Regions from separate parts of the Homo sapiens genome. Here regions 2 and 3 are each linked to region 1. The links come from fine-mapping of genetic effects on gene expression. Tissue or cell type: whole blood. Region 1 holds a variant in brackets; each other region holds the start of a gene. Each region is shown on its reference strand, or each on the opposite one. Region 1 overlaps LOC105373411 (a long non-coding RNA gene). Region 2 holds the start of PAQR9 (progestin and adipoQ receptor family member 9). Region 3 holds the start of R3HDM4 (R3H domain containing 4).

The links. PIP is the estimated chance that this variant, and not a neighbour inherited with it, causes the effect. A credible set is the group of variants that fine-mapping cannot tell apart.
Region 2: it holds the start of PAQR9, and the variant in region 1 is the best candidate, but not a certain one, in a credible set for the expression of PAQR9 in whole blood (TOPMed, PIP 0.71).
Region 3: it holds the start of R3HDM4, and the variant in region 1 is the best candidate, but not a certain one, in a credible set for the expression of R3HDM4 in whole blood (TOPMed, PIP 0.80).

Annotation. Positions count from the first base shown.
Region 1 is chr2:8,610,534-8,621,438 of GRCh38, forward strand. All of the region lies in intron 1 of LOC105373411 (a long non-coding RNA gene), which reads right to left. Among named protein-coding and RNA genes, the nearest start is that of LINC01814, 32 kb to the left of the region's middle. The variant C/T (reference allele first, on the strand shown) is at 5,520.
Region 2 is chr3:142,957,330-142,968,234 of GRCh38, forward strand. PAQR9 (progestin and adipoQ receptor family member 9) reads right to left here and starts at 6,345. Exons shown (of 1, transcript NM_198504.4): 1 at 1-6,345. The coding sequence starts at 6,007. The coding sequence ends at 4,874. PAQR9-AS1 (PAQR9 antisense RNA 1) reads left to right here and starts at 6,729. Exons shown (of 5, transcript NR_125393.1): 1 at 6,729-6,769; 2 at 7,136-7,307. RefSeq lists an enhancer at 979-2,178 and a silencer at 5,374-5,559.
Region 3 is chr19:906,195-916,372 of GRCh38, forward strand. It overlaps R3HDM4 (R3H domain containing 4), which reads right to left and starts at 7,025. Exons shown (of 8, transcript NM_138774.4): 1 at 6,893-7,025. The coding sequence starts at 6,963. RefSeq lists an enhancer at 3,075-3,369 and a silencer at 6,843-7,182.

The sequences.
Region 1 (10,905 bases):
TACAAACACGTTGATTACAAAGATGACTGTGCTAAGCTCAAGAATAGCTACATGTAGTATTCCCAACAGGAAACTCCCCCCAATGTCCAGACACGTCCAATCTGACCCAAATTAATGGATTCTCAAAGAGAATGTAATACTAGCTGTCATGTATTGTGCACCTAGCTCTGTGCACATAGACCTCATTTATCCCTCCCAGCTGCCTCCTGGGTACCAATATTGCAATTTCATGGATAAAGGACACTTAGAATCTGGAAAGTTCAGCTGTCTGCATGAATTAGTCCATTTTCATACTGCTGTGAAGACATATCCTAGACTGGGTAATTTATAAAGAAAAAGAGGTTTAATGGACTCACAGTTCAACATGGCTGGGGAGGCCTCACAATCACAGCGGAGGTGAAGGAGGAGCAAAGGCACATCTTACATGGTGGCAGGCAAGAGAGTGTGTGCCAGGGAACTGCCCTTTTATAAAACCATCAGATCTCCTGAGACTTATTCACTATCACGGGAACAGCACAGAAAAAACCCACCCCCATGATCCAATTGCCTCCCACCAGGTCCCTTCTAGGACACATGGGAATTACGGGAGCTACAATTAAAGATGAGATTTGGGTGGAGACACAGACAAACCATGTCACTGTGCAAATATGTAGAGCTGGATTTGAAGACCAGTTTCAAGAAGGAGGGAGAAGGCTAAAGCAACTCATTCAAGGTGAGACTATGAAGGGGACCCTTGGTCCCATTGGGGGCCGTGCCTCTCCTCTCCATCCACGCCAGTGGAAGGAAACCAGCCAGGTCCAATACGGCTATCGTGTGGCAAAGCAGAAGGCAGAGCTCCGGGGAGAATACCAACCCTACCACACTGCTGCCCGATTGAGGATGGGCTAAGGGCCTCTGCTTCAGGCTTGTTTTTGAAGCTCCCACAGCCTTGTGTGACTCTTGGGATCCTGGAAGTCACAGATGGGCTCCTGGCTGGCCAAGCAGTGCAAAGTGCTAGCCAGCCCGCCTTTGTGCCCACAAGAAGAGGGTTGTGCTGTCCTTGATCTTTTTCATTCCCTGGTGGGTTTATTTGGGCTTTGATCTTTAACCAAAGATCAAATCAAGATCTTTTATCAAAGGTGTTTGTATAGAGAGACACCCTGAAAAGAAAATGCCTTTGTTTGATTAAAAAGTATCAGACACCTCCCTTCCCTCAATGAGTGGTCGGGGTCTTCCACCTCGGAACTGAACACACCAGAAAAGATCAAACATTTCTCTGAGGACGTTTCCCACTGAGACCACGCTGCTGTTACTTTCAAACCAAGGAGAAATGTCTAACCTGCCAACAGCGATCATAAAGTTTGTCGTCAAATATTGAGAAACATCAGAGCACACTATGGATGCATGGCCTTGAACGCTGAAAGCCCTTGTGGTGTTGCCTGGGTCACAAAAGCAATATATCTTCCTGGAGTGATGCTTTTATAGGTTACTGCGGAGTTTTCAAGCTGTAAAGGCCCTGGGTAAGCTTGTCTGACCACCCCCCGACCATGTTGGTGATAAGAAAACTGAAACCCAGCGAGCGAGGACTCATCCAGGGTCACGGAGGTGCTGGACGCAGAGCAGCAAGTGACCAGAGCTTCCATTAGGGCCTGTTTGGAGCTGAATTGAGACCCCCAAAATTCATATGTTGAAGTCTTTACCCCCAGTATTTCAGAAAGTCACTGCATTTGGAGAAACGTTTGTTAAAGAGGAGATTAAGTTAAAATAGGGTCATTAGGGTGGGTTCCAATCCAATTTGACTGGTGTCCTTTTAAAAAGAGGAAATTAAGGCCAGGCACAGTGGCTCACACCTGTAATCCCAGCACTTTGAGAGGCCAAGGCAGGCAGATTGCTTGAGCCTAGGAGTTGAAGACCAACCTGGACAACTTTGTTGGACCCCATCTCTAAAGGAAAAAAATATATATACAAATTAGCCAGGTGTGGCGGCATGCACCTGCAGTCCCAGCTACTCAGGAGGTCGAGGTGGGAGAATCACTTGACCCTGGGAGGTCAAGGCTGCAGTGAGTTGTGATTGTGCCACTGCATGCCAACCTGGGCAACATAGTGAGATCCTTTCTCCAAAATAATAAAAATAAAGGAATTAGGATGCAGACACACATGGAGAGAACACCACGGGGAGACACAGGGGGTAAGGCAGCCACCTCCAAGCCACACTCAGAGGCCTCAGAAGCAGCACACCCACCAAAACTAGATCTCAGACTTCCTGCCTCCGGGCTCTGAGAAGCCAGACTTCTGTTGTTGGAGCCCCCAGTCTGCGGCCCTTTGTCAGGGCAGCCCTGAGCAGCAACACTGTCCCCCTCTGCGTCTCCATGTCACGGCAACCACGTGGGGAACAGGGATTTTGAAGGACATCATTTCTGCACACTTACTTAAAGAGATGCTGGCAAAGCCCTTTTCATGAGTAGACACAGTATGGGAGAGTCCCTTTGATGTTGTTTGTATTGCGCAGATAGTGATAGAAGGTCATGGCAATCATTTTCCTGTGTGATCAGTAAGCTGTCTCTGCAACCACCTCCCAAAGAAGCCATTCAGAATAGTTGAGGCAGGGATGAGATCTCTGGAGTAACTGTGTCCGAGGCATGGTGCTCCCTTCCAGGGATAAGATCAAGTTACTTTGTTTGAAAAAATCTAATGAGAGTCTCATGGATTTATTTTCTTGCTTCCTGAACTGAACTGAGAAGGAAACCATAGGGAGGATTTTTTGTTTGTTTTTTGAGACAAAGTTTTGCTCTTGTCACCCAGGCTAGAGTGCAGTGGCGCAATTTCAGCTCACTGCAACCTCTGCCTCCTTGGTTCAAGCAATTCTCCTGCCTCAGCCTCCCAGGTAGCTGGGATTACAGGTGTGCACCACCACCCCCAGCTAATTTTTTTGTATTTTTAGTAGAGATGGGGTTTCGCCATGTTGGCCAGGCTGGTCTCCAACTCTTGACCTCAGGTGATCCACCTACCTCAGCCTCCCAAAGTGTTGGGATTACAGGCGTGAGCCACCGTGCCCGGCCCATAGGGGGAATTTCTAATGGAAGCATGGATGGAAGTAGGCAGAGGACAGAGTAAAAGAAAGCTTTAAAATGGAACTTGCTCATGTGTGTTCAACTGCCTGTGAGTGTCCATGCACTCTGGACCAGCATTCTGGGTTGCAGAGACGGAGATGAAGGTGCCATGTGGCTGAGGGCTGTGGGTCATAGGCCCTGTAGCACAGTAGTCACACATGTGGACTTGGAGCCAACCTGCCTCCACCACTTGGCTGTGTGAGCTTGGGCAAGTTCCTTGACATCTCTGTGCCTTGGTTCCCCATGATGTTACATGGAAGCCCTAGCAGTGCCTCTCACAGGGTGATGTTAAGGCTCCAGTGAGTAAAGCATGTGGTGCTCTCGGCACAATGGAGGCCGCACAGTAAGGCTTTACCCTTCTGGCTTGTGGGTGAAGTCAGACCCTCTGAAAAGCAATAACTAACAATGCCAAGAGTATCCTAATGAGGGCACATGAAGGGCTTTGGAAACCCCGCATGGGGAGCCCGAGACTTGGCCTACAGTGGGTGGGCACAGATGAACCCTAGGGGGGCCTGGGGAGCTGACTCCGGAACACAGATCCGAGCCTGTTCTGGAAGGGACAACCCCTGTTGGCAAAGAGGGGACAAGGGGAGCCTTGTGAAATACTGCCTGTTTGGGGAAATGTGGGGAGTTTGTTGTAGCTGGGGAGAAGGCTGTGTTGGGGAGGGTGGTAAGAAATGTGACTGGAGAGGTTGAGAGGGTCCAGCCACAACTTTATCCCAAGAGCAAGGGGTTTAGCAGGAGGTGGTGTGGTCAGATCCGCAGCTTAGAATGACTGGCTGCTCCTGCTGCTGGGAGGAAGCTAGATTGGAAGGACAGAGGCTGTAAGCAAGGAGACTCGTAAGTCCAACAGGAGATGATCAGGGCCCTAACGGCAGTACTGCAGAGGCACCACATCCCTTCCCCTCCCTGAGCACGCGGGGAGGAGACCGTCTCCCGGAGTGCATTTCCCAGCCTCCTTTGCAGTGAGCTGAGGGGCCGCAGGACTGAGTTCTGACTAATAGAATGGGGCAGAAACGATGTAACCCATTTCAGGCTTGGCCCTTAACATCTTGCAGGACCCTCTCATCTGCTCTTACTTTCTGCAGCAAATTCAGAAGTACTGGTTCCAGATGGCAGAGCTACAGCTCGAATTAGACGAGATCCCAGAGTGGTGACCTAGAGGTGAGTTGCCAGAAGACCAGCCCGGCCATCCAGACACTGTGTTCAGCCACTGAGATTGCAGGGATATTTGTTACAGCAGCATGACCTAGCCCACCTGACTACGCCAGGAGGACTTGGGGCACTTGGAGAATGAGCAGGACTGGGGGAGAGAAAGGAGTCTAGGGGTGACTTCCTGGATGACCAGGTGAATGGTGGCACCATTAACTGTGGCAGGAGATGCTGGGTGCTAAGTCAGTACTTCTATCTTAGACAAGTGTGTTTGATGAGCTTAGGCAACAAGCAGGAACCCCCTGCAATACGTGCATGAAGCAGCATCAGGGAAAAGGCTAGAGCTGTGGACTTGGGTTTGTTGGCCTCCAGGTGGTCGCTGATGTCTTGTGGAAGGAAAGAGAGTGTCTGGGAGTGCCTTGGAGTGTGCAGGGCAAAGGACACTAATGCACAAGGAAAAGAAAAGGAGAAGGAGCCGGTGAAGGAGCCAGAAAGAGTCTGCTATTCGGGAAGGGGAAGAATGAGGAGAGGGTGATCAATGCCAAGATGCTGATCAACAGGCAAGTCTGATGCAGACCAAATGCACGCCCTGGATGTGGCACACAGTAGGCCCTGGAGGGGCATACAGAGCCAAGCCGGGTCAGGGGATGGAGGGCGGGCACCAATACCATGGTCTGAGACATAAAAGGTGCAGTGGGTGTCCCCGGGAGAAGCCCAGCCCAGAAGGGAAGGAGGGAGGTAAGGGAGATGCTGAGTTGAGAGATGCTCATGCCAAACAGAGAGAGATGGCAGAAAAGCGCAGCAGAGGGGAGGTTGGAGAAGATATAGCAGAGAGAGGTGGCACTTGGTGCAGAGACATCTAACCCCAAGGAGCAAAGGGCATGGTGAGAGATGGAGAAGAAAACCTCCAACTGCCAAGACCTTCCCAGAGCAACGTTCCCCCGACCCCACCCCAGAGGCTTCCAATTCCCTAAGATGGCAGCCAACTAGGGCTGCCGCAGCCTCTCCAGTGTGCCAGCCTGCTGGTGTCAGAAACCATTCAGCCCCATGGCCCAGGGACCAGAGGTTTGTGCCCTCTGCACGTGGCCCTGGTGCAAGGCCCTTGGCTGGGCACCGAAGAAGATAACAAAGTGTTTATGACAGTCGCAACCCTTCAGGAGCTAAAGCAGTCCAGGAGCAAGATAAGGCAAGTTCAGAAATAACTCATCTGCAGCAGACAGATAACTGGTAAGTGCCAGGGAGAGGAGCAGATAATGTGTGAGGGAGTTCACAGGGAGA[C/T]TCCCTCCTGCTGGAAGAGATCAAGAAAGAAACACTGACGCAGGGCCTGGGGACCCAGGCCTAACCTTTGCATGCCAGTGTCTCTGCCGGGTTCTGGAGTAAATTGTCTCTCCTTCTTCTCGCCGGGGCTCCCTTCTCCATCCCATCAGCTCCAGCTCCTGCTCCCACCGTGGTCAGTGAGCTCGCGCTAGATGAGCATCCTGTTCCTCCGATCACCAGCAGCATCAGAAATCTGATGCATGAACAAGAGCAAAGTCACAGGGCTCCATAGACACCTCCTGGGATTGGGGCACAGACGGAACTTGAGCAGGACTTTAAAAATGAGCAAGTGTTAACAGCTCATGGCAGTCGGCAAGACTGGCTACAACCACAGCACCTGCTCTGACAAATACAGACCATCCTCCTTTATCAAGTCCTCCCTGTTGGATAACGAAAAATCCAACAGGTAAAGTTTGCTTCTCAGATCTTCTGAATAGTCATTGAATTCAGGCCATAAAATAATGTCAAACGCTTAAAAAAGGGAAGGGAATGAGGCATCTTGCGTACTGCACAGAGCAAACTGAAAACCCAGATTTATTTCCATAATGTGAATTTTTAAATATGATACTGAAATGGGCACAAAAGTCAATAACTTTATTAAAATGATTTTGCATTTCTTAACTTGATCTTTTCTGACACTACCCTTTGGAGTCACAGATGAGAAAAGCAAGACACATGACATGTGGTTCTACCTAAGGCAGCAAAGTGAATAGTGGAAAGACAAGCTTGTTCCAGAAACAGCATGGCGGGGAAGGGTGTCTGTCGTTCTAGATCTTTCCAGCTGACTCTGGGGAAAGGATGCAGGGAGAAGAAAAGCTCCTTCCAGGGACTGCCATTTTTCTGTGTGTACATGAGCTTCCGAGGGACGGTGGTCACCTCCAAGGTGAAATTTGTGAGCCACACACTCAAAAAAGGTTGGCGGGCCCGGAGGGGAGTCCAAAGGGAAGCCCCTACACACACAGACATGGAGATGTGCTTGCCTTAGGTCATGAGGATGCCAGAGCGGCTTCCTATGATTATTCAAGCCTGATGGAATTTCACAACTGGTGCGAGATGAGCGCAAGGTGTTTAGACACCTTGCAAGAGCTGGAATGCCAGGAGGGGCGGCCGGGGGGCGGTCTCCTCCAAAATTCAAACCCCCAAACAAGTCCGACTTTCTGCAGACAGCTCCTTCGCCATTCAGTAGGGACCTCTCCCCCAACACGGGACCAGCCCCTGAACTTGAAAATCCTACTTGGCTTCCCTCACCCCAAACACATCGGAGTCGCAAGCCCCACCAGGCCCGTTTCCAAGCCCCCACTCCTGTGTCTCCAGGAACCACTTGCCTTGTCTTGCCTTGCCTCAGAAGCATCATTTGGAAGCAGAAGCCTGTGGCTTCATTTCTTTTTATTTTAGAGCTGATCTGCTAGAAAAAGGTATTTTGCGAGGCGCAACGGAGGTAGAATGTCTCGTCAGCTAGCCACTTCACAGACATATGGCCTGCTATCCCACCAGTTAGGAAGTGATTATTGGAGCTGCACAAACAGATTTTTTTGTCAAAGTGGAGGTGTGATTTTCTCAGGTTCTGTGAGAACACACACACATATTTTTACCAACCCAATCTGTTTTCCAGCAGCCGGGTGGCCGCAGGGCCTGGACACCCGCTTGGTGTTTAGGAGTCATGAAGGGTGCCTGGCGAGGTCCCTGGAGGCTGCAAACCTACCTGGCAGGAGCCAAAGACCCCAGGTTCATTCTGTGACCACGAACAGAGCCTCTGCCTGCCCTTACCTGTGACAAGAGGGATGGCCACGAAAGCTGCCTCCTTGCACACAGAACCAAGCACCAGCGTTCACCCTACTATGCATCTGAGAGCCGGGACTTTTTTTTAAACTCACCACTGCTAGTTTAGTTCTAAAATCTCTTTGAAATAAAAATTAAGACACACAAGAGATACTAGGGTAAAGATGGCAGATGAAACACGTTCCTTTACTTCCATTCTCTCTCTAAATCCATCAAAGACAAACATTTTGTTTTGTTTTATTTTACAGTGTAGCTTTGTGCTATGGAATGTGGTAGCCCCTAGCTACACGGGCTACATTTACCTTTTTATTAAATCAATTCTAAACTTCAGCTTCCAGATCACACTAGCCACATCTCAAGCACTCAGCAGCCTCACAGGGTTAGTGGCTGATATACTGAACAGCATAGAAAAAGAATGTTTCCATCAGCATCACAGAAAATCCTATTGAACAGCACTGGGACGGAACCTCCAGGAGCAAAATCTCGGGAGAACACACTGGTAAAATGCCGGAGGCTGGGAAGGGAAGAGTGCGTGGGGGCTGGCTGAGCACGCAGGATACAGCTGAGCCCTACACCAGGATTGGGGGGAGCCAAGAAGCCAACTCACCCTTCGCACTCAAGGAGGCCTGAGCAGGGGCAGCGGAGGAAGCTCACGTGCCCTCACTCATAAAGAGAAAATTCTACACTAAGGTCATAGACTTTATTTAAAGGTTAAAAAAAAAATCCTTCTATTCTCTGCTTTGACAAATATACCTTCTTGGTGATGTAAAAGGCCCATGTGTTAGTTTCCTAGGGTGCCATGACAAAGTACACACACTGGGCGGCTTAGGACCACAGACGTTTATTCTCTCACTTCTGGAAACTAGAAGTCCAAGATGAAGGCGTCTGCAGGGCTGGTTCCTTCAGAAGGCTGGGAGGAATCTGTTCCTGGACTGTCTCTTAGTGTCTGATGATGACCGGCACTCGCTGGCGCTCCCTGGCCTGGAGATACATTTCTGCCTCCATCTTCCTATGGCTGTCCTATAAGGATACCCATCATCTTAGACTAGGACCCACCCGACTCCAGTATGACTTTATCTTAACTAATTATACCTCCAATGAACCTATTTCCAAATAAGGTCATGTCCTGAGAAACTGGAGGTTAGGACTGCAATGGATCTTTTTGAGGGGACACAATTCAACCCTTAACTGCAGGTTCAAATGGATAGTCCTCCTTGGACTTCTCAGTTCGGCACCAAAACACAGCAACATGGGAAGATCCCTGATCGTGGCCCATTCCCCTTCCTTCCCAGCCCAGCTCCATCCTGCACCTGAGGGAGCTTGCATGGCTCCATCCAAACCTCCCACAACCCCTTGCCCCCAGCCACTCCTCAGCCTAGGTGGCTCACACTGGCAGCATGGTCCACTCTGGAAGGAGGGCTCTGGAAAGAGCCCCCCCGCCCCGGGGCCCAGGGAGCAGGGTTGGGATCCTTTGGACAGGGAATTCCAAGGCCTCCTTTCCCTGGAGAATGTTCTAGAAGGAGGAATGAGGTGCGCACTCTGAGTGGGCATGTCCTCTTGGCCCCTGAGAAGGGGCACAGCTAGAAGAGGGAACATACACTCTCTGAGGCCGTGGCCCAGGTCTAAGGGCATTCCTGCCAAGAAGCAGCCAGGTTTACCAGCGGAACCCAAAGAGGGCTCAGGATTTGGGGGTGTCCACAACTTCTGAAAATGAGAAGGAACCTGCTCACAAAGTAGTGAGGTGCACAAATCCCCTTTCCGACACCAGCAAAAAACTGAAGGCTTATTCTCTGGAGAGGAGACCAGGTCTCTAGTTGGGGAGATCCCAGGCACAGCTGAAGGTCAAGGCACCACACAGAAGTAGCAGATTAAGGGAAGGTTTGTATATGGAATATTGACCTGCGATAGCCCTGCTCCAGCCCTCTTCTCTCTCTCGGCCTTCAGAACGTCTAGGTTGTCACTTCCAAGAGAGGATTAAAGGGCTTTTTTGAGCTCAAGCCAGTGCAAGAGGAAAAATCTAAAGATGCCGATATTGGTAGTTCCCCAGGAAAATAGTCCAACCAGATTCTTTTACAAGGAAGTCCACAATCAACAATCTTAATCACACATTTAGTGCTTCCAATCAACTTTTCATGCCCCACTCTTAAATATAAACCAGTGACTGAGGGTCTCAGCTGAAGAAAGCCCCTGACATGAGAGAGCGTGACCAAAACAAAGAGAAGAAGGTAACTTGGAGGAAACAGAGATTATGCATAGAGAAGAGAGAGTATAAAACAGGAAGCTATTATCAGTATCCTCAGATAGACAATCAGAGATGGCATCCAGGCACAAACACGTTTGTTTGTTTGTTTGTTTGTTTGTTTTTTAAAGAATATTTAGAGAACAGAAAGAATAGTTGTAAGCTTAAAATGCCGTGTTATAAATGTAAAGTTCATTCGAAAAATTAGAAGACAAAACAGAGGAAATAGAGAAAATAGAGCAAAAAAATGTAAAATTAGTTCAAGGGGTTCAACATATGAAGACAGAGTTCCAGAGAGAGAGAGAGAAACCAAGGAAAAGGTGGGAAAGGAAAGCATCATGACATAGTTTAGGAAATTTCAGAGAACTGAAAGACATTAATTTCTAGCCCGAAGGACCCAATGAGCACCCGCCCATATGACAGATGAAAAGATACCCAGCCTAAGCCACCCGCATAACATTTACAAACACTGAGGACAAAAGACAATCTTACAAGCTGACAGGGAGATACAAATAGGTCTTCTACAAAGGATCATGAATCAGAATAATTTTGATTCTCAAGACAAATCCTGGATGCTAGACTACAATGCAGCAAAAATCCAGGGGAAAATGATTTCCAACCCTGAATGCTGTACCAAACCCATTATCAACTAAGTGTGAGGGTACAATGGAGATGATGTCAGACATTCAAGGTGTCCAAATATTTGCCTCCCACGTCACAGGAATGATCAGGAAATTTGCTCCACCCAAATAAGAGAAAACCATGAAAACCAAGCCCTGTGTCCCTTGACTTTCTACTTACCAGTGAAATGCGGGTCTGAAGGATTTAAAATGTTGGGTTTTATCTTTTTTATTTGTGTGTGTGTTTGTGTGTGTGTGTGTGTGTGTGTGTGAGTGTGTGTGTGTGTGTGTTGCAGGAAGGATTGGAAGTTTCCTCAGTATCATCCCTTCATGGTTCACCAGGAAGATGTTACCGGAAAGGGGTCCCAATCCAGATCCCAAGAGAGGGTTCATGGACCTTGCGCAAGAAAGAATTCAGGGCAAGTCCATAAAGTAAAATGAAAGCAAGTTTATTAGGAAAAGTAAAGGAATAAAGAACAGCCACTCCTTGGCAGAGCAGCTGGGTCTTATCTTTAATATGCTTCCTTTCATGAGGATACATTCCACTTCGTCATCTGACTTACTGGTACTTGTGTCATGAGAGAAAACAAGCCTATTCCAATTTCTCAATTTTTTTGAAATCAACGTCAATTCCAAATTCAGTGCAGGTAGCGAGCCAAATGCATTTATAGCCCACTTGTTTTCTCTTTACATATCTTCCTTCATGGAT
Region 2 (10,905 bases), not on the chromosome of region 1:
ACAGTTGAACTTGCTGCCCCATTCTGACTGTTTGACTCTAATCCTCTTTGTTCTCCCCTTCCCATGCATTCTTCCTATCTTTTTTACCTCTGACACTTTTTAATGATTTCCTCCAGATTAATGTTTTCTAAGACATGTTTCATAAGTTACAACACAAAGATCCTAAAAGGCTAGAGAGCATTAGTTAATCTCAGTTAATTTTGGAGATCTAGCCATTTACCTTCTTATGTATGTGATTGGTTTGTTTGTTTGTTTTATTACACTATAAAATTCAGACACTTAAAGACATCTCAATTTAGGCACTTTGGATGATCCACTCTTCATAATAGTATGAATACTATCAATCTTCCAATAGTTATCGTTATTAGTGTTTTCATAATATTAGTGATAAGTTTTTCAATTCTGTACATATGCCGACTATCCCCTCACTTGGATTGTACATTACATTTTCAAGTTATTTTTAACAATAGGCCTAGGAGCACACAGAAAAAGAAAAAAGAAAGAAATTGATTGCTGAGGAAGTCAGCATGTGAATAGAAATAAGATTCTATGGATTGCACTTATGCTAGCAAAAAAAGAGACCCAAACTCAGGGACTTACGGCATTCTACCTACAGCCAAGGTCAGAGTTTGGTTCCTGGCCAGAGAGACTTTCTGGGGCTTCTCTCTTCCACCAGAAGACAAAAGGGTAATGGCTGTAATAATACGGATGGGTCCTTGCCCAATGTCTTACACACAGTAGGTGCTCAAAGATCATGAAAGGTATGATATGAGTGCATGAATGAACAGCTCAAAGATTGCTGACAGAGTGAAGTCAGCAGTGGTAAACTTCAACAGTTGAAGAACAAGATGGTAACAACCATTTTAAGTGGCTGATAACATTTTGTTTGAGATATTTTGATCTAATTTCAAAGACAGCCCTATCTCACTTTGCTCAATTTTAAAGTTAGTCAATTAAGGGACTGTATCTATATCTCTTTTTCCAATTAGTGTCTGTGTGCTTGGCCAGGCATCATAGCCATGCAAACTAGTAAACACAGTTGAGCAGACAATGGTCTCCGCATTCTAATGCCAGTTTGAAAACTTAATCCTGTCACCTTGGACCAACTATAAAGCTTTGAAATGGAGATAACTCCCACCATACCTGTCTCCTATTATAGCTTTGTGCAGATTAACTAATTAAAGTTATGAAGAGATTTAAAGATAAAAATTCCTGTTTATTATTGCTGTTAGTCCTCAGAGTTGGCACCAAATCAGGAAAAAATGATATAAATCACCTCTGTCCCAAAATTTTGCATTCTTAGAAATGATTCCTATGAAGTATCACTATAAATTAGGCTAAATTGTTTTTTGACTGCAAGCACTTACAAGCTGGATTTATGAATGGAAACATATGAAGGCCACTCTGTCCAGCTCTGTAGCCCCATACTTTCTCCCTGGGCTATTTATAGAAAGTGTATGGCTAGTGGAAAAGTTCACATTTATTTTTACAAGCCAGTCATGACATGACCGAGGAACTCATTTCCTCTCTCTGGGAAGGTCATCCTCTTCACCTGAGCTGCAAGAACGGCAGGGAAGAAAGGAACCCCATTAGCCAACTAAGTCAGTCTGAGTCAGCCCCAGAGACCAACCCACGGGGTGACAGGCACCGAAGTCAAACACCTTCATTTTCCAGGCATGACTCTATGGCGCCGCTCCTTGAGATGTCATCCAGATCATGACTAACAAGTAAAAATGAAACATATTACATAATATGCTTCAAAATTCTACTGCCAAAATAGGTTGTACATAGATAATGGACTGAATTCTTATTTATAATTTGTCCTACATTTCAAACAGCTGAACACAATAAAGTAAAACTGAATTTTAATGTGGCAAAATGGAAAGTGTGAAAAATATTTTAAAATATATATTGTTCTGATTGCCACATTACCTTGAAATGTGTAATAAACCTGGATAGTTCCGTGCAAATGGGGAGATTCAAAGTAAATATTCACTTCTAAAACATCAAGAAATTTAATAAATTCAGCAAATAAACTGTATAGTTTAACAAATCATCCCTGGCTTTGACTAGTGTATATGGTACCTATTTGCAAACATGAAGTGAAGCCAAACCAGTTTTCAACTAGAATGTCCTCTTGTCATTATTATATGTGGTCTACAAAATCTAAGATGGAATAGGAAAGAACAGTGGACGAAGGAAAAGGCAAAGGGAAGAGGAAAGTGAATCCTCATTCTCTCTGGGACATACTGGGTGCTGAAACCTGTGTGGCAAAAAGTGTGTCATCTCACTGTACTCATGCAGCATAATCACCTGAAAAATGATATGGGTATAATTTTATCCTTAAGTGGCCTCTCCTTAAGGTCAAAGACAAAGGACAAGAAGAGAATTCTGTCTGTGGACCTGGAAGAACAACAAAAAATTAAAATGACAAATTTGGTGTTTTAGTTATTGTTCTCAAACTCATTAATCCTTGCTAGAAGTCTTCCTCCTGAAAGTTCCTTCTGAAATTGAGGTCCCATTTTACAAAGAAACTACATAATACGCTTCACCCTGTTTCTCTAGCTTCCAAACCAATGTTCTTTGGGGCTCTAGAAAAAACAACAATGACATGCAAATAAATTTGCATGTGGAAATATCCTGATTTCCACAGTTGTCCTTGAATGCATCTATTGAATTAAGTTACAGCTGAGGAATAACATCTGTTGTAAGTACAAATTAGCCTCTGTAACCTAACAGGAATCTCCTTGCACTTCACAAAGGATGAGACACTGACACTCGTCAACAACTGTGCAAAGTGTATTTACAATCTCAGTAAGAGATTCTAAATTAAATATAGACATATATAAATTTAACTTCTATGTGCAAAGTAACACACACAAGGATACCGGTTCCTCCAGGGAATTGTGCTGAGCTTCTCTGTTTACAGAGAAGTGATTAAAAGCATAAACAAAACCAGCAATTGTTTTAGAAGTGCCAGCCTACCAGTGCTGAGGTAAGTGTTCATCTACCTCATATGCATGATCTAAGTTATATCATAAAATCAAGATGCACCTGTGGGACATGATCATCCTGCCCAAGACCTTCAACTAGGCAGTGGAGATCAAGCCCAAGATAAGCCACCACTACCTGGGCAAGCTCTCCATCACCTACAAGCCAGTGAAGTACAGCTGGCTGGGTATGAGGGCCACCCACTCCTCCTGCTGAGCCAGTAAAGGCACACATGTCTCCAAACAAAACAAAACAAAAAAAACTCCCAATCAATGACTTATTTGGCTTCTAACAAAATGACCTACCAGGAAGTGTGGTAAGTATTTAAACAAGTCATCTCAGTGGTTTGTGTTAATCTAGAGTGGCCATCTCAATTACAGGTTAGCATTTGTAAGAAATGTCTAAATAACATTGGCTAATCTGTTTGTTAGAAAGGATCTCAGGGACATGCTCATGAATGTTTCAAGGATTTAGGGTGACTGCCCATCATTTCCATAGTCTGGAACCAAATCAAACTTCAGCGTTTAACTAGGCAAGTGTAATCTTATTTAACTCAAAATTTTCAGTGACAACTCAATAATGTGCTCCTGCCTTTCATAATAAAACTGCCTTGTTTATTCTTGGATATTATGTTTTTAATTTTAAGCAAGGATGGATGGCATCAGTCTAGAACTTCTCCCATGGCTGCATTAGAAACACATCTACATTAGAGGGTTGGCTCTTTGTCCTTGTTGGGAACCCAAATGCTCTGCACGCTCCTGTAAGCTATCTCCAATCCCACCAAAAACTTGAAACCAACACCATCTTCTGCCCTCCTGGATGGACCATGAAACCTTGATTTTCAGTCAGGTAAGAAAAGCTTATTCTTACTACTCTCCCCATGTAAGAAACTGTGTTTGAGGACCAGTCATTTGGACTTTGCTTCAAAAGGCACATTTATTCCAGTGGCAATTTAAATAAGTAGAGAAGGAAAAAAAAAGATTAAAAACAAAACAAACTAACAAAAACCAGGATGGGTTTTGTGGAATACATTAAAGTAAACAAAAATCTGGGGTCTATACAAACCACTCGAGCTCCTCACCAATAGTTTAACCAGAGTCCCTAAGGTAGAATTCACAGTTGTATCATGACACACGCCTTCAGAAAACACTGTTTAAGAAAGTAATTGAGAACTCTCAAGCAGCTTCCCCTGATGTCCAGTTCAAGTGTATGCAATGCAGAAGGCTGTGAAATTCAAAACTATGTGACAAAGAAAATTCAGTGCGTACCACAGGCTTTGATAAATTATGAAAAATCAATGTATATATTACTATTTAAATAACATCTGAAAAACATTTTGAAATAATTAACTTGTGTTCACATTCCATGCATTTTCTAGCAGGTTAAGCCCTGGGTTTGCGTCTTTGTGCCTGTTTCCTACAAAGCTCCATTCTTTTGACAAATCCAAGCATTCCTCAGACTGAAACAGAAGTTCCCAAGGATTCTATTTACCCTCTTTACTGTGTACCTGACCTCACAGGGGCTACTCCTTATTACCAATGGCACAGATGATTGGAAAAGCAAACTCTTTGGGGCTTTATTTGGGATTTTACTCACTGCCTTTGAGAAATCCCTGGATGTCAAAGACATCACCTGAATTTTTTCCAGGGGCAAGAACAAGTGACTATCTCCCTCCCGCTTGACCACCCCTGCCAACCTCCCTACTTCAAAGCCTCCAGTGGGTTGGGATCCCTTTGTAGCAGTGAACTTTTTCCCTATGGTTTTGCAGCACCTTCCTTGAGCAAAGAAGAAAACACAATGAAATTTGAAAACAAACCAACAATAGCAACAACAGAAACTCCAAACAGATGGGCGAACCAGTAGTCTCCTCCAAGGCGGAGGCTCACTTTTTACTGCAGAATTCGGAGCTGTTTAGGAACTTCCTGATTACCAGCCCCAGGCAGACCACCAGCAGCAGCATGTAGCCCACAGTACCCGAGAAAGTGGGTGCGGCAGGCGGCGCCTGGAGGAACTGGCGCAGGCCCTCTTCTACGTAGTACACCTGGTCGTAGATGCTGAGGAAGGTGAAGATGTGGAAGAGCTGGTGGCTGTGGCCGATAATGTCGAAAAGACCCGGCTGGATGCGCTCGGGGATCTTGCTCACGTTGAAGAAGGCGGCCACCACCAGCCAGAAGTAGCGGCGGTAGAAGTGCACGAAGAGTGTGGGGTTCTCCCCACGCAGGTCGAAGAGCCAGCTCTCGAGCATAATGGGGCAGGCCATGCTGAGCGGCATGACGAAGACGAAGGTGCGCAGCGCGAACGGGTAGGTACACCAGTCGGTACGGCTCTTGCAGCAGGCCACAGTGCAAGCCACCGCCAGCACGAAGGCCACAGGCAGCACCAGGGCGCGGTAGGCGGCGATAAGGCGCGTGCAGTCCACGTGCCAGCCCAGGCGCTGCTGCAAGTATGGAGTCATGACTCTGGCATCCAGCAAGCTGAGGCCTGGCAACAGGTAGTAGTAGTAGGCCACCGTGCTGCCGAAGCCGTAGTAGCTGATGGACGCGTAGTCCAGGTAGAAGAAGGCGGCGCGCAGACGCAGCGACAGGCAGCTGAACACGTGCGCCGTGCAGCTCATGGCGAAGGTCAGCAGCACTCCCGACGCGTAGCACCACAACGGTAGCAGCCACGGGTGGTGGAAGGGCACGTCGCCGCCGCTCAGGAAGAACAGACGGCAGAACTTGCTCAGGAACAGCAGCAGCGGGATGAAGTGCGTCCAGAAGTTGAGCGTCTCGTTGGTAGGCTTCAGCACCGAGGCTAGGCACTCCTGGGCCGTGCACGGCAGACGCCGGTAGCCCGACAGGATGAAGCACTCCACGAAGTCGTCGGGCACCTCGTCCCAGCGCAGCAGCGGCTTGGCAGACGCTGGGGGGTCCCGGGAGGCGGCAGAGTGGGAGTTCCGGGCGGCCCCCGAAGCTGCCGGGGCCGGGGCCGGAGGGCCTTTTGTGCCCGCGCCCCGGGGCTGCAGGCGCCGCGGCATGGTGCCCGGGGCTCGGCTAGGGCGCGCGCAGGCGACCTCTGGCGCCGGCTCCCGGGCGCTGGGCAGCCCCCGCCGGCCGCCGTCGGAGCCTTTGTGCCCACGCCGGGGGCGTCGCTGCAGGTTTAGGAGAAGACCCGTGCCTCCGAGCAGCCGCTCCTAAAAATTAAATAAATCAATAAGAGAATCAATTAATAGGCAGCGCTGCGACCGCCAGGAGCGCGGAGCGCGCGAGGCTCAGCGGCTTCCTCGCCAAGCCCCTGCTACCGGCGCGCGGCCGCCCGCGCTGCGGCAGCGGCGGCGGCGCGGCTGACTGCGGCGGCAGCGCGGCAGCGGTGACTGGGCATCGCGCGGTGCGGGTGCCTCCGCCGCCGCCGCCCCCGGAGCGGGAGGTGGGGATGTGCGAGCCGAGGCGCGGAGGGAGGGACGGGCGCACCGAGGAAGGGCGGGGGCCTCCCAGGCTAGGGTTTCGCGGCCGCTTCGGGGGATAGAGTTGTCCCCTGTCTCGAGTTCCGTACCATCCCCCTCCTCGGGCCGCCGCAGCCCGGGCCGCCCCGTTAATGATTGATGCGGGGGCCGCAGGCTGGTCGGCGACGCGGCGGCGCGCGCGCCGAGTACTAGAGTCGGCCCTGGGGTTCGAAACCCGACAGCCACGCGGGCGTTCTGGAGGACACTGGGGAGCCGCGTTCGCGGGGGGCGGGGAGCTGCGGCTGCGGGGGGAGGGGAGGGCGCCGGAGCCGGGCAGGGCGGAGAGATGCGCCAGCGGTAATCTCCGGAGGTCGCCGGGGAGGGGGGCACTCCGGAAGTCGGGGGGCTTTAAGCCCGCGTCCGGATCGGGGCCGTGTCATTGTCAGCTACCTGGGGATGCGCCTCTCGCTCCCTCACTGTCTTTGCGTGTGTGTTAGTGTGTGTGTGTGTGTGTGTGTGTGTGTGTCGGCCTGTCTACGCACTACACGAAGGCTTAGTTGGTCTTCTTTCGTCTAGTGGGCGCACTCAGGTGCGTCACCATTCTGCCGTTTCCCTCGCCCTTGTCCTGTCCGAAAGAACCGTCCGCAAGCTGCCCTGTGGTCGCGCTCACCAGCTCTTCGAGCCGCAGCTAACCCATCTTCTTGTTTTTGTGTCTTTAACTAGGACTTCTATTTGGAACTGAGTCCGACAGCTCAGGACTGGCTGCTCAAACTCCACAATTTAATGAAAAATCTCAGATGATGACTCAGAAAACCTCTAATGATCTGAGGAATATATTAAGGGATTCCAGAGTCAAAGGCTGATCATGGAGGGCATTGATGAGGGAAGACTTCAGGTAGGAGGTGCATTCTAGCAGGAACTGAAGAGAATGAAGTCCAGTTGGTAGAAACGGAGGGGGTGGCTTGGATAAATCTTATATGTAATTAATCAGAAGTACCTGGCAGGTGGCTGGAGACCAGAAGAAAGGAACACTGGAAGAATGAAAACGGTTGTGATGCACTGCAGTGTGAAAATATGCCCTTGAGCCTTAAAGAAAGGGGCTTAAGGCCGGGCGCGGTGGCTCACGCCTGTACTCCCAGCACACAGATCACGAGGTCAAGAGATTTGAGACCATCCTGGCCAACACGGTGAAACCCCGTCTCTACTAAAAATACAAAAAATTATGTGGGAGTGGTGGCGCACGCCTGTAGTCCCAGCTACTCGGGAGGCTGAGGCAGGAGAATCGCTGGAACCCAGGAGGCGGAGGAGGTTACAGTGAGCCGAGATCGCGCCACTGTACTCCAGCCTGGCGACAGAGCGAGACTCCGTCTCAAAAAAAAAAAAAAAAAGAAAAAGAAAAGAAAGGCTACTTTCATCGCTACTGCACATCCTCTAAGTAGGTTAAGGAAGATTTACTTAGTAGAGCCTCAAGATGGATTTAAGTTATGGATAAGAATTATTTATAACTAGGATATCATTCAGTATTATAAGTGTCTGCAGTTACTTAAGGATGCTAGAAACAGTCTAGAAGTTTCAGTCTTCTCTCTGAAGTATACTTTCAAGTAGTAACTGATTTAGCAAGCTCTTACACAATTAGATCAAACGTGCGCTTCAGTCTTCTGCCTTTCTGCACTGCCACACATTCCTGTCTAGTGGATTTTTTTTTTTAGGCGTGGATTTTTAAGAAGTGAGATTTTGTTGTAGTTATTTAGCCAGTGTCTTATTTTAGTGTTTTCTGGTTTTCCACTGTTTGTAGCTTGTTTTAAATTGAAATCTAATTTCCTTTTATATCTGGACTGAGGACCCATGGCTATTTGTAAAATGGATTAAATTTAGGTGTTTTAATCAAGTGTAGGAATGATAAACTTGAATCCAGGGCAGGCCCGAACTTTTTTTTTTTTCATATTCCCTTTGTTACTCCACAAACAACCAGAGCTGTCACGTGTAAAAATGGTGATCCTATAATAATTCTTATATTTACCACACTCTTAGTTGCATAATCAGCTCGCTTACATAATCTAGAAAAATATAATAGAAAGTTCACTTCAAGCAAAACAATGGAATTGACTGTAAATGGGTATGCAAAAACTTGAGTTAGATAAAATATCTTTATGACAAAGAATGGTGAGATTGACTCTAATAAAATATGTTCTTTTAAAAAATCAGTATTTTATAAAGTAAAAAAAAAATGTTTCATGTTAAGTCTTTGAAAAAGTCTTTGTGATATCTGCCTTTGTCCTTTCTCACACATCCCCTACCCTGCTTGAGGCACAAAACCAGTTGATGCCATGGAGTGAGTGGTGTTCATGAAAGTTCACTGGTGCAGAGCCCAGTCAGCTGTCCTTGCTATACCTTGACAAAGCTCAGTAAAAAGGAACTAAGGAAACAGCAAAACTGACCTAACTTATAAAGTAAAACAGCAATATGGCTTTTCCTTAATTGCTACCAATCTATAGAATTAATTTCTCTTACTTTTTAAATTGAGATATAAAAATGTGGCCCCCAAATCCTGCACAGGCTGAGTTTTGTAGTTTGTTTTAACTCCAGCAAACTGTCTCTTGTCAGTGGGAACCATGCTCACATCCTCTGGACTTGGCTAAACAGAAGCAATGAGCAGGGTGCCATTCCCTGAAGGTGCATTGGGACATAAGGCATCTCTAAGGTAACCAGGACTGACTGCAAAGTTTTTGACAGACAAGAATCACCAAGTTACACTGGAAAGCCACTGCTGGCATTTAGAGGCAAATGCCAGCTAGTTCTATCAATTAAAGTTAAATCAAGACCACAAATGTGGTGTTGGTAGTTCAGTGGAGGCTCTGTACATCCAGGTGTTGAGGGGTCCTGGCTGCAAAATGCAGTCATGTGTCATGTGTTGAAACTGTAGCAAAAGGGATGAATGCTCTTTTCAGTCTGGTTTGCTTTGGTAATGTTCTTGTAGACCAACTACACGTTTTTGTTTCTTTCTACAGGAATAATATTAAGTATATGTAAAAATGCCACTGCAAATTTGATGTTGTTTAGTAAGGGCAGTTAGCTATCTGTAAAACCAGCAGAAAAATATGCTGTGTTATTGGCTAATAATATACCTATTTTTAGAGGAAATAATTTTTTCTTGTCTAATTTTTAGCCAGAAAACAACCAACTAAAGAAAGAAATAAAAAGAAAAGAAGAAAGGAAAGAAAGGAGAGAAAGAAAAGGAAAGAAGGAGAGAGAGAAGGAAGGAAGGAGAGAGAGAGAAAGGAAAGAAAAAAGAAGGAAAGAAGGAAGGGAAGGAAGGAAAGGAAGAAAGAAAAGCACAGCACTATGGACCTAGTGCTTAATTGTACCCAAGACTCTGTATTAAGAGAGAACTCTGTAGGGTTCAGTCCCTCTTCTCAGAATATATAGTTTAGGCTGGGCACGATGGCTCACGCCTGTAATCCCAGCATTTTGGGAGGCCAAGGCAGGTGGATCACTTGAGGTCAGCAGTACGGGACCAGCCTGGCCAACATGGCGAAACCCTGTCTCCACTAAAAATACAAAAATTAGCCAGGCATGGTGGTGCATACCTGTAGTCCCAGCTATTTGGGAGGCTAAGGCAGGAGAATCACTTGAACGTTGGAGGCAGGGGCTGCAGTGAGCTGTGATTGTGCCAGTGCACTTCAGCCTGGGCAACAGAGCAAGACTCTGTCTCAAAAAAAAAAAAAAAAATATATATATATATATATATATATATATATATAGTTTAAACAAAGTGCTTCCCTTTTCCCTAAATGGAAAACAGCCATGATCTGACAGGTCAAATATAGTCACTACCAAGTCATATAGTCTAAGCTTCCTAATTGTGGAAAATCTAATGGTATCAGGTGTAACTGTAGCAACCTCTAGTGACAAGTGCAATCAGAAAGCCAGGTAGAGGGCTGGGAGAGAGCAGTGGGAGACTGAGTTATCTGGCACTGTTCCTGCCTGCTACTGACTGGGTGACAGACATGTCTCTCTGTTTTTTTGTTTTTTGTTTTTAGAGGTGGAGTCTTGCCCTGTCACTCAGGCTGGAGTGCAGTGGTATGATCTCGGCTCACTGCAACCTCCACCCCCTGGGTTCAAGCAATTCTCCTACCTCAGCCTCCCTAGTAAGTGTAATTACAGCTGCATGCCACCATGCCCGGCTAATTTTTTTATGTTTAGTAGAGACGGGGTTTTACCATGTTGGCCAGGATGGTCTTGAACTCCTGACCTCAAGTGATCCGCCCACCTTGGCCTCCCAAAGTGCTGGGATTACAGGTGTGAGCCACTGCGCCCAGCTGACAGGCATCTGTTTTGAAGAAAAGCTAAGGGAAACTTGAGGATGCTTTTTGTTTTGGGGGTGGGGGGTTTTTTTTTTTTGGTTTTCTAAGGCTTTATGAAGGGAGTGACAATGCTACACTCCCCTCCCTCAGCAAATTCACCTATTTTCTTCCTGGGGTCTCTAGAGTGGT
Region 3 (10,178 bases), not on the chromosome of region 1:
TTTATTTATTTTTAGTAGAGATGGGATTTTTTTTTTTTTTTTTGAGACAGAGTCTCGCTCTGTCGCCCAGGCTGGAGTTCACTGGCTCGATCTCAGCTCACTGCAAGCTCTGCCTCCCGGGTTCACGCCATTCTCCTGCCTCAGCCTCCCGAGTAGCTGGGACTACAGGTGCCCGCCACCACGCCTGGCTAATTTTTTGTATTTTTAGTAGAGATGGGGTTTACCGTGTCAGCCAGAATGGTCTGGATCTCCTGACCTCGTGATCCGCTCACCTTGGCCTCCCAAAGTGCTGGGATTACGGGCATGAGCCACCGCGCCCGGCTCACCCTGCAACCTTTAACCTCAGCCCCCTCTCAAAAAGTGGGAACAAGTTGGTTTGGGAGGGGTACTCAGAGCCAAAAGGGCCTGGGATGAATTCCCCTCATCTCAGCTGCCACTTGCTTGTTTTCCTCCTATGATGGGGAACTCACCCCTCAGCCATGCCACACTGCTTTTGATCGTAAGTGTCGCTGGACTGAGTATTTTCCCCACATTGGGCTCATTTCCTGTCACCTGTGCTGTCCCCGGGGAGGCAAGTTCTATTACTTTGATGCCCATTATACAGATTTGGGGTTTTTTTGTTTTGTTTTGTTTTGTTTTGAGATGGAGTCTCACTCTGTTGCCCAGGCTGCAGTGCAGTTGTGCCATCTCTGCTCACTGCAACCTCCACCTCCCTGGCTCAACCGAGTCTCCTGCCTCAGCCTCCCGAGTAGCTGGGATTATAGGCGCCCACCACCACGCCTGGTTAATTTTTGTATTTTCAGTAGAGACGGGGTTTCACCATGTTGGCAGGCTGGTCTTGAACTCCTGACCTTAAGTGATCCGCCTGCCTCAGCCTCCCAAAGTGCTGGGATTACAGGCATGAGCTACCACGCCCGGCCCTCATTATACAGATTTGTAAACCAAGGCACAAAGTCACCGCCCAAGCTCCCATTGCTGCAAAGAGGGCAGCTGGAGAAGGAGGTGGTGGACCATGCCCTCAGCACAGAGCACAGCAGCCGACGGGTACTCAGTGGGAATACAGGGTCATGTTAAGCCAGCGTCTCTGAAGCTGGATCAGCCTGAAGCTGCCTCCCTGAGGCCGGAGCACTCTGTCCCATGCCCCAGATTCACCCACAGCCCCCCCTGAGGCCCCGGGGCCTACTTCTCCACCCCAGCAGCTGGACAGGGCCGATAACAGAAGTGACATCCGAGGGGAGCCCTCGGGGAAGTCAGAGGGGGCGGGGCTCGGTGACACAGCTCAAGCCCTCCCAGCAAGGGGCCTGGTATCACCCCATATTACAGATGAAGGATCTGAGGCTTGGAGAGGTGGGGCTGTCCCCCGTCACCACCCAGACAATGCAAGGAGCTGGATGTGAACCTGGGTCTGACCCAGAACCCCAGAGCTACCCTGCTTCCCTCACCACCCCTCATACCAAAGCCCCACAGGCCTCTCCTCCAGGCCCACAAGGACCTGCCTGGTCCTTCCCCTGCTCCAGCACAGCCCATGGCTCCCCAGCATCCCAGGGCCAGGCCTGGCTCCCCCTTGGCCTAGCACTGCAACACGAGGGCTTTCGCCTGTTTTGTTTGGTATCTGAGGGCTCGCCACCCTCCCCTGGGTCTCTAGTGCTGAGCTGAGCACTGGAAATCGAGTCCCACCATCAGATGGAGCTGGCTGACTTCAACCAGTTTCCAGCAGGAAATTAAGAAACATCTTCAAGCTTGTCATCCCAGCACTTTGGGAGGCCGAGGCGGGCGGATCATGAGGTCAAGAGATGGAGACCATCCTGGCCAACATGGTAAAACCCTGTCTCTACAAAAATACAAAAATTAGCCAGGAGTGGTGGCGCACGCCTGTAGTCCCAGCTACTTGGGAGGCTGAGGCAGGAGAATCGCTTGGACCTGGGAAGTGGAGGTTGCAGTGAGCTGAGATCGCACCACTGCACTCCAGCCTGAGTGACACAGCAAGACTCTGTCTCCCAAAAAAACAAAAACAAAAACAAAAACAAAAAAACATCTGGCCTCTGGGGTAGACAGGGGGGCCTGGGAGTCACCGACACTCCTCTCCAGAAATGGAAGGAACAGGAAGACCACATCAAAATCCCCATGCCTGGCCGGGCGCAGTGGTTCACACTTCTAATCCCAGCACTTTGGGAGGCTGAGGCAGGTGGATCACTTGAGGCCAAGAGTTCGAGACCAGCCTGGCCAACATGGTGAAACTCCCGTCTCTACTAAAAATACAAAAAAATTATCTGGGCATAGTGGTGGGCGCCTGTGGTCCCAGCTACTCAGGAGGCTGAGGCAGGAGAATCACTTGAACCTGGGAGATGAAGTCTGCAGTGAGCCGAGATCACAACACTGCACTCCAGGCTGGGTGACAGAATGAGACTGTCTCAAAAAAAATAAAAATAAAATAAAAAATAAAAAAATCCCACGTCCAGCCACAGGCCCCTCCTCACAGTGCTCCAAACTCAGGGAGCCCCGGTCTCTGCCTGATGCACCTGCTCATTCCAGCCTCAGCTCTGTGTTCACCACCCCCAGGAACGGCCCCGCCCCCCACCTAGCCCAGTCAGCCTTACCAGGAAGCTCTGGAAACCAACCGGCCCCAGCCGGCCCGTTTACTTCTTTGCTCCTTAATCACTAGCTCACTAGGCCCACAGAACAAGACAGGGTCCGCCCCCCGCCCACCGCCGCCCCCCGGTCCTGGCCTGTGACCGGCCCACAGCGGCGCTCACTGCCTGTTTGTTGAATGAAGAACTAAACTTCTGTTGACACACCTCCCAAGGGCTGGTTCATCTGTTTCCCACGCCACTCAACAAGACCACTTTACAGACGAGGAAACTGAGGACCCAGCGGGGGTATCTGAGGCTTCCTGGACCCTGAAGGCTCGAGGATGTGTGTCCACAGAAGAGGGGGGCAGCCCAAGCTGGGGAGCTGCTGGAGTTTGGGGGAACAGGCCTCCCGGCCACTCCCAATTCTACTCCTTGCAGATTTTGAGAGGGGAACTGTGAACCCTCAGTCCCTCGAGCAAAAACACACCTTTCCCAGCACTGGTCCCTCCCCCAGGAACCCACTAGAGACAGCAAGAGAGGAACCGACTTGTGCATCAGGAAGCCAGGGCTCAGGGCGGAGGTGACTCAGCCTGGGGTGGGGCAGACTGCGGCGGCCCCCAGCAGTCCCCAACCCCCCACCAGGACACAGCTGGCAGGTAAACACCCAGAGACTGACGGCTGAGAGCGGAAACATGAGTGTATTTACATAGTTACATAGGAGTCACTACACCTGGGCTTCAAGACCAGGGTGCCAGGCGTGGTGGTTCACGCCTGCAATCCCAGCACTTTGGGAGGCCGAGGCAGGTGGATCACCTGAGGTCAGGAGTTTGAGACCAGCCTGACCAACATAGTGAAACCCCGTCTCTACTAAAATTACAAAAATTAGCCAGGCGTGGTGGCACATGCCTGTAATCCCAGCTACTCAGGAGGCTGAGGCAGGAGAATCGCTTGAACCTGGGAGGCAAAGGTTACCATGAGCTGAGATCGCGCCACTGCACTCCAGCCTGGGTGACAGAGCAAGAACCTGTCCCCCCAACCCCCACCAAAAACAAAAAAAACAGAAGACTCAGGAAGAAGAGCCCATTTTGAGGGTAAATGCCCACACCAGGTGGTTCAAGGCCCCCTTAGAGGAGACGTTACGTGGGTGCAGTGGCTCACGCCTGTAATCCCAGCACTTTGTGAGCCCAAGGCAGGTGGATTCCTTGAGTCGAGGAGTTCGAGACCAGCCTAGGCAACATAGTAAGACCCTCGTCTCTACAACAAATTAAAAAATTAGCCAGGCCGGGCGCAGTGGCTCATGCCTGTAATCCCAGCACTTTGGGAGGCCAAGGCCGGTGGATCACCTGAGGTTGGGAGTTCGAGACCAGCCTGACCAATATGGAGAAACTCCGTTTCTACTAAAAATACAAAATTAGCTGGGTGCGGTGGCACATGCCTGTAATCCCAGCTACTCAGGAGGCTGAGGGAGGAGAATCGCTTGAACCTGGGAGGCAGAGGTTGCAGTGAGCCGAGATCGCACTACTGTACTCCAGCCTGGGCAACAAGAGCGAAACCATCTCAAAAAAAAAAAAATAGCCGGCATGGTGGTGCACACCTGTGGTCCTAGCTACTCGGGAGGCTGGGGCAGGAGGATCGCCTGAGCCCGCAGGTGGAGGATGCAGTGAGCTGTGATCAAACCTGGGTGATAGAGTGAGACCCTGTATTAATAATACTACTACTAGGCCGGGCGTGGTAGCTCACGCCTGTAATCCCAACACTTTGGGAGGCCGAGGAGGCAGGATGGCTTGAGCCCAGAAGTTTGAGACCAGCTTGGACAAGTTAGCAAGACCCTGTCTCTAATATGAAAAACAAAAACAAAAACAAAAAAAAAGCATCCTCTGCTCCAGCCTGGCCAATAGACCGAGACTCTGTCTCCAATCAATTAACCAATCAACCAATCAAAGACGCATCCTTTCTCCTTCAGATACAAATCACCTCGGTAGAGATGGGTATGGCCTCTGAGTGGAGATAATAGTGATGATATAATAAACATAATAACGATGATAGTAATAAATGATCATTTAAAAATAATACTAGCCGGCGCGGTGGCTCACGCCTGTAATCCCAGCACTTTGGGAGGCCAAGGCGGGCAGATCACAAGGTCAAGAGATCGAGACCATCCTGGCTCACACGGCAAAACCCCCGTCTCTACTAAAAATACAAAAAAATTAGCCGGGCGCGGTGGCGGGCACCTGTAGTCCCAGCTACTCGGGAGGCTGAGGCAGGAGAATGGCGTGAACCCAGGAGGCGGAGCTTGCAGTGAGCCGAGATCGCCCCACTGCACTCCAGCCTGGACGACAGAGTGAGACTCTGTCTCAAAAAAATAAACAAATAAATAAATAAATACAAATAATACTAAAGACCGGGTGCGGTGGCTCACGCCTGTAATCCCAGCACTTTGGGAGGCCGAGGCAAGCAGATCGTGAGGTCAGGAAATCAAGACCATCCTGGCCAACATGATGAAACCCCATCTCTACTAAAAATACAACAATTAGCTGAACGTGGTGGCGGGCGCCTGTAATCCCAGGTACTGGGGAGGCTGCCGCAGGAGAATCGCTTGAACCCAGGAGGTGGAGGTTGCAGTGAATGAAGATCGTGCCACTGCACTCCAGCCTGGGCGATAGAGCGAGACTCCGTCTCAAAATATTAATACTACTAAAATAACCAATAAAACATTAACGATAATTAGTAATGAGACAACGGACACTCCTGTTTGCTGGGCCCGCCGCAGTGCCAGCTCGGTAACCCCCACCACTCGGAGAAGAGGCCACACTTACTATCCCATTTTACAGAAGGGGAAACTGAGGCATGGAAGCATGAAATAACCTGCCCAGGTGGCGCCGTCCGCACACGGAGGAGGCAGGAACGGAACACGCGCCGCCTCCTCGCCCTCCACCAACACGGACCCCAGGGGCGCACCCTGGGTCCCCGGGTCCCTGTGCGGGCCGGGGTGACACACGGCTGACCCCCGCACAGACCGCCCCGCTTCCGGGTCCCCCGGGAAGGACGCGCGGGCTCCTGCTTGCCAGGTTTTAACCCACAAGGGTTGTAGGGATTTACCCAAAGGAGAGCAAGGAGCCGGGTCTGCCCGGAAAGGCAGGGGGCGCGGACAAGCCCAGAGGGCGAGTGGGGCCGGGCGTGCGGCAGGGACCAGGCTGGAGCGCATGGCCACGTGGGTGAACCCCGACCCGCGGACAGGGGCCCAGGACCCTCTGGCGGGAGGCTCCATGGCTGGCACCTCGGGGCCCGGGGAGTGGGGGGGCAGACCCGGGAGTGGGGGCGCGGCCCCGGGGAGGTGGGGGGGGGGGTGGACCAGGGAGTTGGGGGGCGGACTGGGGAGGTGGGGGGACGGACCCGGGAGTGTGGGGGGCGGACCAGGGAGTTGGGGGACTGACCGGGGAGTGGGGGGACAGACCCGGGAGTGGGGGCGCGGCCCCGGGGAGGTGGGGGGGGTGGACCAGGGAGTTGGGGGGCGGACTGGGGAGTGGGGGGACAGACCCGGGAGTCGGGGCGTGGGCCAGGGCAGTGGGGGGGTCGGACAGAGGAGTTGGGGGGCGGGCCCGGGAGTGGGGGCGCGGACCCGGGAGTGGGGGCGAAGACCAGAGAGTAGGGGCACGGACCAGGGAGTTGGGGGGTGGAACCGAGGAGTTGGGGGGCTGACCCGAGGAGTTGCGGGGCGGACCCAGGAATGGGGGCAAGAACCAGGGGAGTGGGGGGGTGGAGCAGGGAGTGGGGGGACGGACCCAGGAGTGGGGGCGTGGATCAGGGCAGTGGGGGGGCGCGGACCCGGGAGTGGGGGGAGTCGGACCCGGGAAGTGGGGGCGCGGACCGGAGAGTGGGGGCACGGACCGAGGAGTTGGGGGGCGGACCCGGAGAGTGAGGGGGTGGACCCGGGAATGGAGGCGCGGACCAGTGCAGTGGGGGGGCGGACCGGGGAGTGGGGCGCGGACCGGGGATTAGGGGGCGGACCGGGGAGTAGGGGGCGGAACAGGTAAATGGGGACGTGGATCCGGGTCCCCTCCCCCAGCGAGCCCCCGGAGCGCCAGGAGGGTGTCCCCGCTGAGTAACAATGAAGACCCCCCACCCAGCCTGGGGGTCCACAGCGGGCGAGAAGGGAAGGCAGGACAGGCTGAAGCCCCGGAAGATGAGCAACGGGAGCGAGGGGAACGAAGGGAACGAGGGGAGGGAAGGGAAAGGAGGGGAGGGGAGGCGGGGAGAGGATCTCAGGGGAGGGAGCCCAGCCCGCCCCCGGCGCCCGCCGCGCCCCGCCCGCCCGCGCTCACAGCAGCCGCCGCCCGCCCGGGGTGCCCTCCGCCGCCTCCGGGCCGCACTCGGGGTTCTCCAGCGCGACCATGGCTCGCACGCTGTCGCCGCCGCCGCCGCCCGGCAGGGCCTTCACCGGGCCGGGCAGGAAGTGACGGGCGCCCGGAGGCGGGCAGGGGCGGGGCCTGGGGCTGCGCGGCGGGGCGGGGGCGCCCACCTCCCGGCTGCCGGGAACGAACGCGGAAACCCAGGCGCGCGGGGAGGGGATCCAGCCCCTGGGGGGACGAACGGGGAAACCGAGGCGCGCGGGGCGGGGATCCAGCCAACAGGGAACGAACGGGGAAACCGAGGCAGGCGGGGCCGGGATCCAGCCATCAGGGAACGAACGGGGAAACCGAGGCAGGCGGGGCCGGGATCCAGCCCCTGGGGGGACGAACGGGGAGACTGAGGCGGGAGGCGGGGCCGGCCACGATCCCTACACCCAGAAATCTAGCTCCGGGAAGGAGGGACACCTAGGCGAGGGGTCGAAAACTCAACCACAACCCTGCGTCCCGATCCGGGCTGCGGACTGAGCCAGGAATCCAGCCCAGGGAGGCGAGGAGACACGGACAGGGAAACTAAGGCCTGAGCATCGACGAGGGAGGGGACGTTCTTCTTGGAGGCAGAGGATGGCGGAAATTAAAACTGCCCGAGCCTTCCTTCCACCTGCCCCTCCCAGCCCTGGAGCCTCGGCTAGGCAACCCCTTCCCCTGCTTAGCCTCAGTTTACTCTTCTCTAAAATTAGGCCTGGTGGCCAACGTGGTGGCTCACGCCTGTAATCCCAGCACTTTGGGAAGCCAAGGCCAGTGGATCACTTGAGTCCAGGTGTCTGAGACTAGCTTGGGCAACATGATGAAAACCCATCTCTAAAATAAAAAGAAAGGGCCGGGCGCGGTGGCTCACACCTGTAATCCCAGCACTTTGGGAGGCCGAGGTGGGCGGATCACGAGGACAGGAGATCGAGACCATCCTGGCTAACACAGTGAAACCCCCTCTCTACTAAAAATACAAAAAATTAGCCGGGCGTGGTGGCGGGGGCCTGTAGTCCCAGCTACTCGGGAGGCTGAGGCAGGAGAATGGCGTGAACCCGGGAGGCGGAGCTTGCAGTGAGCCGAGATCGTGCCACTGCACTCCAGTCTGGGCGAGGAGCGAGACTCCATCTCAAAAAAATAAAATAAAATAAAATAAAGCAAGAGGGAGGCTGGGCACGGTGGCTCGCACCTGTAATACCAGCACTTTGAGAGGCCAAGGCCAGTGGATCACTTGAGGTCAGGAGTTTGAGACCAGCCTGGCCAACATGGCAAAACCCTATCTCTACTAAAACTACAAAAATTAGCCGGGCGTGGTGGTATGCACCCATAGTCCCAGCTACATGGGAGGCTGAGGCACAAGAATCGCTTGAACATGGGAGGCAAAAGTTGCAGGGAGCCGTCCACTTCACTCCAGCCTGGGCCACAGAGTAAGACTACTCTGTCTCAAAAAAAAAAAAAAAAAAAAAAAAAATAGCCAGGCACAGTGGCTCACGCCTGTAATCCCAGCACTCTGGGAGGCCGAGGCGGGTGGATCATGAGGTCAGGAGATTGTGACCATCCTGGCTAACACGGTGAAACCCCATCTCTACCAAAAATACAAAAAATTAGCCGGGCATGGTGGCAGGCGCCTGTAGTTCCTGCTACTCAGGAGGCTGAGGCAGGAGAATGGAGTGAACCCAGGAGGCAGAGCTTGCAGTGAGCCGAGATTGTGCCATTGCACTCCAGCCTGGGCGACAGAGCGAGATGCTGTCTCAAAAAAAAAAAGCAAGAAAGAAAGAAAAAGAAAGAAAGAGTAAGGAGGAAAAAGAAAAGGATGAGAAACTGTGGATGGACTCAAAAAAGCGTGCACTGTGAGATTCCTGTAGATAAATGTGCAAAGAGGTGAAAAAGGACAATGGAGAGATGTATCAGGAGTGACTGGCAGGGGAGCTGGGCATCGGGAATGAGTGGTTTCCCCATCCATCAGGCACAGGGTAAGGGTAGATGCTCAAAGAATGGACCTGAACATTTATTCGTGAGAGAGGGAGGCAACTCCAGAGAACTTCCTGGGCCTTCCTCCCATTCTGGGTTCCAGGGCTTCCCTTCAGGGGCCTGGGCCTGTCCTGTCTGTACCTTCTTCTTCTTCTTCTTCTTCTTTTTTTTTTTTGAGAGAGTCTCGCTCTGTCACCCAGCCTACAGTGATGCAATCTCAGGTCATTGCAACCTCCACCTCCTGGGCTCAAGTGATTCTCCTGCCTCAGCCTCCCAAGTAGCTGGGATTACAGGCACCCTCCACCAAGCCCGGGTAATTTCTGTATTTTTAGTAGAGACCAGGTTTCACCACGTTGGCCAGGCTGGTCTGGAACTCCTGACCTCAAGTGATCCACCTGCCTCGGCCTCCCAATGTGCTGGGATTACAGGCATGAGCCACTGTGCCCGGCCTATTCATTTTTTTTCCTCCCTTTTTTGTCTTTTTTTATGCAAATGGAAGCACCTTTTTCTTCGCTGTGTATTACTCCATGATGACCAAATGTCTTGGACTCTGTTGCAGGATGGACTTTGGGGGAACCTCCTGGATGTCATCCTGGGGTACACTTCCAGCTGTGGGATTATGGAGTCAAGGTTGTGCTGACCAGGCTGGGTGGCTCATGCTTGTCATCCCAGCACTTTGGGAGGCTGAGGCAGGAGGACTGCTTGAGCTCAGGAGTTCAAGACAAGCCTGGGCAACCTAGTGAGATCTTGTCTCTACAAAAAAATTTAAGGGGGGAGGGGGGAGGGATAGCCTTAGGAGATATACCTAATGCTAAATGACGAGTTAATGGGTGCAGCACACCAGCATGGCACATGTATACATATGTAACTAACCTGCACATTGTGCACATGTACCCTAAAACTTAAAGTATAATAATAATAAAATAAAATAATAAATAAAATTAAAAAAAAAACTTTATTTGCAAAAAAATAAAAAATAAAAAATTTAAAAATAAATTAGCTGGACCGGGAGCAGTGGCTCACGCCTGTAATCCCAGCACGTTGGGAGGCCGAGGAGGGTGGATCACCTGAGGTCAGGAGTTCGAGACCAGCCTGGCCAACGTGGTGAAACCTGGTCTCTACTAAAAATACAAAAATTACCCGGGCATGGTGGCAGGCACCTGTAATCCCAGCTACTCGGGAGGCTGAGGCAGGAGAATTGCTTGAACCCGGGAGGCGGAGGTTGCTTTGAGCCGAGATCATGCCACTGCACTCCAGCCTAGGC